Linked DNA regions of Homo sapiens. The protein of the gene in region 1 interacts with the protein of each later gene in a pairwise test. Each region holds a gene or a part of one and is shown on either strand. Other genes may lie near its edges.

Region 1 (2,632 bases):
ACTAATCCTATTCATGAAGGTTCTACGCTCTTGACCTAATCACCTACCAAAGGCCCTATCCTCATACAATTACACTGGGGGTTAGGATTTCAACATATGAATTTGAGGGGGAAACGAACCATTCAGTCCATAACACCCCTCAAAAAAAATTACTGTCCTGTGATCTCCTGTAGACTGAGCTATTAGCTTGTGGCATTTTCCTTCTAGATGTTGAATGTTTTAAAGGCAGATTTAGGTCTAATTAATATTTGAAGTGTTCAAAATGTAAATGCATCATACAGACCTAAGAAAACTATTTTCTAAGCAAATCCAAATTAAAGCCTGATTCAGAATAATTTATTTTAAACTAAAACCAAGTAGTCTCTTGTGCCAAAGTAGCAAAATTTTCTGCCAATTCACAGAAAAGGGCAAATTATTATTTATTCAGATGCAGTCCAGAATCTAAGAAGAGGTACAGCCAGATGGATGGACTGGATGACTTAACTATAGCAGAAAAAAGTATAAATTGAAGGTTTTCTTTGTTTTTTTTTTTTTGTTTTTTACTTCTGTGCATTCTGTAATCATTTTGCACAGTGCCATTATATCCCTTCACTTCCTTCAGGTTTTATTCAAATGCTGTCTTCTCTGCGATGCCATCCCTGACTCTCCTATTTAAAATACAAACCCCTTCTCTTGTATTTATATCTCCCTTATTTGCTTTTTCTCCTTAGCACCTATGGTCAGTTGACATACTACACATTCTATTTATTTGTAAATAAATTCTCTCTCTCTTGCTGCTAAAAAGTAGCATGAGGGTAAGTGGATCTTCTTGTCTTTTTTCCTTACTGTATCCCTACTGCCTAGAACAGTATTTGGTGCACAGTAGTCTCAAATTCTATCCAGTCGGCTGAGCGCGGTGGCTAATGCTTGTAAGGCCTCCGCTTTGGGAGGCTGAGGTGGGCGGATCACTTGAGGTCAGGAGTTCAAAACCATCCTGGCCAACATGGTGAAACTCCATCTCTACTAAAAATACAAAAAAATTATCCAGGTGTGGTGGCAGGCATCTGTAATCCCAGCTACTTGGGAGGCTGAGGCAAGAGAATCACTTGAACTTGGGAGGAGGAGGTTGCAGTGAGCCGAGATCACGCCACTGCACTCCAGCCTGGGTGACAGAGTGAGACTCTAGTCTAAAAAAAAAAAAAAATTCTATCCAGTCCATGAATATTTGGGAAAGAGGAATCTTCAGGTTATAGAAGATGCACAAGTTTTTTTCTTAGTAGTTTTTTTGTTTTGAGTAAATATAGCGGTCTGGCGATATTTAATATAGATCCTTCCTAAATTACAAATGCATTCAGAACAAATATACCTTTCTCCTTTTTTATTATAAAACAGATACAAGGTAAAATTCAAATGCAGCAGTAGGGTGTCCTTTGAGAATCTTTTATGCCTGTGTGTATCCTTTAAAGTTTGGTCAACCACACTACTGTTTAGATTTCCTTTAATAACAAAAAGAATTATAGGCTTTTATGTTGATATGACTCAGTAAGCTAACTGCATCTGTTTTGGGTCACTTTAAAACACCTTTGCTTTTGAAAAGGAAAAGTTTCTTTACAGAATTGAGTATGTAACTCTTGAAGTTTACTCTTTCAAAGATTTGCTTTTCTCCTTTTTCCTTTCAGGAGCTGCTGCTCAAGAGGTCATCAAAATAATCACCAAACAATTTGTAATTTTTAATAATACTTACATTTACAGTGGCATGTCACAAACTTCAGCAACTTTCCAGTTGTAGAGTAAGCAAGCACCTTAAGTAGTGTGTTAATGATTGAAACTGTAATTGCCTTCGGGTTGTGCTTTAGTCTGTAAAATTCTAAAGGAGAGCTGCTAAATTGTTTTCTTAATAAACATTTTTCTCATTTGTAATAATGTAGTCTTGTTCTTTGTGGGGAGGGGAAAGGAGACAGTCATTTTCCTAGAAAATGAATCCTATCCATTTCTCACTGAGCATCAATATTGGCTTGCTATTTCAAAGTTACTTGTCATAGATTATCCTTGTGTTTTATTAGAGATAATTAAAAATTTTTTTTCTTACCATCTTCAATAATGAATTTAAGCCATGTGCAGATGTTAGCTATGGACATTTTAGGACCATCATCATTTGTTAAAATGAATAGAATTTAAAAAGATATTTCTGGATATGTAGTTTTCCCAGAAAACAAGACCATCCCCTTGTATGTAGTATTATCTTAATTAACTTGAGTTTTGGCTGCCTAACCTACTTCTTGAAATTTTATGGGGTCATTCTACTCATATTATATATACTCTTAAATTTAATCACATGGGACTAATAGCATTCACCAGCATATTAGAGGGCAAAAAAAAAAAGGAAGTAGTAGATGCAAACAGAGTGGAAATCCAGAATCCAGAAGTGGGGGCAGTTCCCGGTTTTGGGCTTGATGTATTAATACTTAGGGCTGAGGAACGTGGTCCGTGGTGCATGACTCTTAGTAGCTAAGGCCCCTAATCTGCTGCAACTGTCTCTGAGGCCAGCGTCTCTTAAGTGAGAACCTGTTAGATTTGCTAGGGTACCTCACAGGGACTTGGTTTTCCAGACGCTAATGTGTCAGCCATTCTTTGGCTGTTCTTCACTGTATCG
Region 2 (3,832 bases), on another chromosome or scaffold:
CCAGTATGTGGCTTGTCTGGGTTTATTTAGCAGCTTGGAGTTTCCAAATTAAAAAGTAAAGCAAAAACTTTTAATGTCTTTAGTCTGAATTCACACCAAACACCAGCAGGTGAAGGGCATTGTCCAAGAGATGAGCTATAGGGTTGGAAATGAAACTCCAAGTCCTGTTTCCCTGACTGCCACCACTAGGCAGCTCCCAATCCCACAACATTCCTGTCTTTGGAGAAGGCAATTACTCAGGGAAGCAAGATTCTTTTTTTTTTTTTTTTGAGACAGAGTCTCGCTCTGTTGCCCAGGCTGGAGTGCAGTGGCGCGATCTCGGCTCACTGCATCCTCTGCCTCCCAGGTTCAAGCAATTCTCCTGCCTCAGCCTCCTGAGTAGCTGGGATTACAAGCACCCGCCACCATGCCCAGCTAATTTTTGTATTTTTAGCAGAGACAGGGTTTCACCATGTTGGCCAGGCTGCTCTTGAATTCCTGACCTCAGGTGATCCTCCCGCCTCGGCCTCCCAAAGTGCTGGGATTAAAGGCATGAGCCACTGTCCCCGGCCAGAAGCAAGATTCTTTTACGATACCCCTGATTCAGTTTGATACATGCTATTGATTGCTTAAAATTTCCTACTAAAAAATTAATATTCTCAACTAAATTGAACTTGTGCCAAAATCAGCATGTTCTTCTATGCCTCAGCCAGTTCTAATGTAATAGGAGATGCAGTTTATTTAAGCTATTTGCAAGTGTAATAACAGTTGTTGTTTTAAGAAATTATTTTTATTTTTAGCCTTTTGTCTGTGGGAAAAGCAGGAGACGCTTCGATTTTTCTGATTCTGACCACAACAGGACATTATTCCCTCTTTCCTCTGCTCTTCACTGCACCAGGTAAACAGCGTCTTCTGAGAAAAATATATTTGACTATCACAACCTTTTCATCGAGGCCCACAGATTAATACATCTAATTTAAACAACTCTAAAATCTCTTGGATAGAGATCATTCATCCTCTTAAATAAAACCTCCAATTTCCTGTAATTCTCAGCATCTCTAGATGTCACAAAAATGTAAAATTAAACTTAAAAAGTATTATTAGCACTATATAGCTGTGTCAGTGTGCTTATATTACTTTCAGCATCATAAGTCTTTCTGTCATCAGCTAAATTATCTTTTTTTTTCTATTCTTTTAACAGAACTTCCCATTAAAATCTTACTCATGTTACTATTCACCATATATAGTATTTCGTCACTGAAGACTTTATTCAGGTAATCAAAAAAATGTTTAAAATTATACTTACTCTTGTGAAATGTTTACACCTAAGTGGTCAAATAAGCTCTTTAAATTTTATTTTTAAGTTATAACAGTAATATGACAACATTACAAAAAAAATTGGTAAATAGAGGGAGAAATCACTCAATCCCATCACTCAGTCGAGACAACATAGTTTGTGTCTTTAGTTTGGGGGAGTATTTGAGGAGGACTACTTAAATTAAAATCCTATATGAAAACTCAAAAACTGAATGTAAAATATGCTTTATGAATAAAACTATTAAATACAGATAGATATGGAAAAAACTAAAAGATACTATGTACAAATTTTTTTTGTTCGTTTTTTTGAGACGGAGTTTTGCTCTTGTTGCCCAGGCTGGAGGGCAATGGCGTGATCTCGGCTCACCACACCCTCCGCCTACCGGGTTCAAGCTATTCTCCTGCCTCAGCCTCCCAAGTTACTGGGATTACAGGCATGCGCCACCATGCCCAGCTAATTTTTTTTTTTTTGGAGACGGAGTTTCACTCTTGTCGCCCAGGCTGGAGTGCAGTGGCGCGATCTCCACTCACTGCAACTTCCGCCTCCTGGGTTCAAGCGATTCTCCAGCCTCAGCCTCCTGAGTAGCTGAGATTATAGGTATGCATCACTACCACACCTGGCTAATTTTTTATATTTTTAGTAGAGGTGGGGTTTCACCATGTTGGCCAGGCTGCTCTCGAGCTCCTGACGTCAGGTGATCCACTTACCTTGGCCTCCCATAGTGCTGGAAGTACAGGCGTGAGCTGCTGTGCCCGGCTAATTTTGTATTTTTATTAGAGATGGGGTTTCTCTGTGTTGGTCAGGCTGGTCTTGAACTCCCAACCTCAGGTGATCCACCCACCTCGGCCTCCCAAAGTGCTGGGATTACAGGCGTTGAGCCACCGCACCCAACTATGTACAAATTTTACTACAGAATTATAGATGGAAACTTTTTCTCTTCTAAACTGTATGTAATGTTAACTATAATTTTTTTTTTTTTTTTTTGAGACGGAGTTTCACCCTTGTTGCCCAGGCTGGAGTGCAATGGCACGATCTCAGCTAACTGAAACCTCCGCCTCCCAGGTTCAAGCGATTCTCCTGCCTCAGCCTCCCTAGCAGCTAGGATTACAAGCATGCGCCACCACACCCAGCTGATTTTGTATTTTTAGTAGAGATGGGTTTCTCCATGTTGGTCAGGCTGGTCTCAAACTCCTGACCTCAGGTGATCCACCGTCCTTGGCCTCCCAAAGTGCTGGCATTACAGGTGTGAGCCACCATGCCCGGCCAACTGTAATTTTTTAAAGCTTGCTTATGGTTCATAACTGTGTCCATAAAAACTTATATAATTAACTATGTTAAAATGCAGTTATAGCCATGTGACCCAGCAATTCCACCCCTATACCCAAAAGAATGGAAACAGGGACTCAACAGATACTTGTACATCAGTATTCATTGTAGCATTATTCATACTAGCTAAAAGATGGAAACAACCCAATGTCCATCAACAAATACATGATAAAGTGTGATATATACATATAGTGGATTATTCAGCCAAAGAAAAGAATGAAGTTCCAATACATGCTACATGAATGAATCTTGAAAACATGCTAAGTGAAAGAAACGAGAGAATAGAACAAATATCATATCGTTCCACTGATAGGAAATTCTAGAATAAACAAACATAGAGACAGAAAGTAGATTAGAGGTTGAGGGAACAGGGGGATGGGAAGTTATTGTTAATGGTTCCAGAGTTTCTGTTTGGGGTCACGAAAATATTTTGAAGGTGGATAGTGGCGATGGGCGCATATTATTGATCTACTTAATACCATCAAACTGTATACTTAAAAATGGTTAAACAAATAGCAAATTTCATGTTATATATATTTTACCAAAATAAAAAATATTTTAAAAATCTGGTGAAACCTTGTCTCTATAGAAAATACAAAAATTAGCTGGGCATGGTGGCAGGCGCCTGTAATCCCAGCTACTTGGGAGGCTGAGGCAAGAGAATCGCTTGAACCCAGGAGGTGGAGGTTGCAGTAAGCTGAGATTGCACCACTGCACTCCAGTCTGGGTGACAGAGCAACGCTCCATCTCAAAAAGAAAATTTTTTTTAAATCTTCAATTCTATATTGTTTCTCATGTTCTTATTCCAATGTCACAGCACCCAACCCCTTTACCTCTTTCAAATGCAGAACTAATTCTCTCTGAGCAGCTTGAGCTAAATAACAGCATAGGTCAATGGTGGAGTAAATTTAGATTGTTGAGATAATATAACGTATATAATTATCATTTTTTTCTAAATGTGAAACTTATTTTTTATTTTTATTTATTTTTTGAGACAGAGTCTCACTCTGTCGCCCAGGCTAGAGTGCAGTGGTGCCATATCGACTCACTGCAACCCAGTTAAAGCAGTTCTCCTGCCTCAGCCTCCCAAGTAGCTGGAATTACAGGCCTGTGCCACCCTGGTCGGCTAATTTTTGTATTTTTAGTAGAGATGGGGTTTCTCCATGTTGGCCAGGTTAGTCTAGAACTCCTGACCTCAGGTGATCCACC

What was found.
Region 2: the proteins of NAE1 (region 1) and ALG8 interact in a two-hybrid assay, tested with the Homo sapiens proteins (one large-scale study listed by BioGRID and IntAct).

What each region holds. Positions count from the first base shown.
Region 1 is NC_000016.10:66,802,145-66,804,776, reverse strand, and holds the end of NAE1 (NEDD8-activating enzyme E1 regulatory subunit), read left to right. Parts: intron 1-1,658; coding exon 1,659-1,768; 3' UTR 1,769-1,899; downstream 1,900-2,632. UniProt on the Homo sapiens protein: Regulatory subunit of the dimeric UBA3-NAE1 E1 enzyme. E1 activates NEDD8 by first adenylating its C-terminal glycine residue with ATP, thereafter linking this residue to the side chain of the catalytic cysteine, yielding a NEDD8-UBA3 thioester and free AMP.
Region 2 is NC_000011.10:78,101,401-78,105,232, reverse strand, and holds part of ALG8 (dolichyl pyrophosphate Glc1Man9GlcNAc2 alpha-1,3-glucosyltransferase), read left to right. Parts: intron 1-779; coding exon 780-877; intron 878-1,180; coding exon 1,181-1,253; intron 1,254-2,284; coding exon of another isoform or gene 2,285-2,343; exon of another isoform or gene 2,344-2,359; intron 2,360-3,832.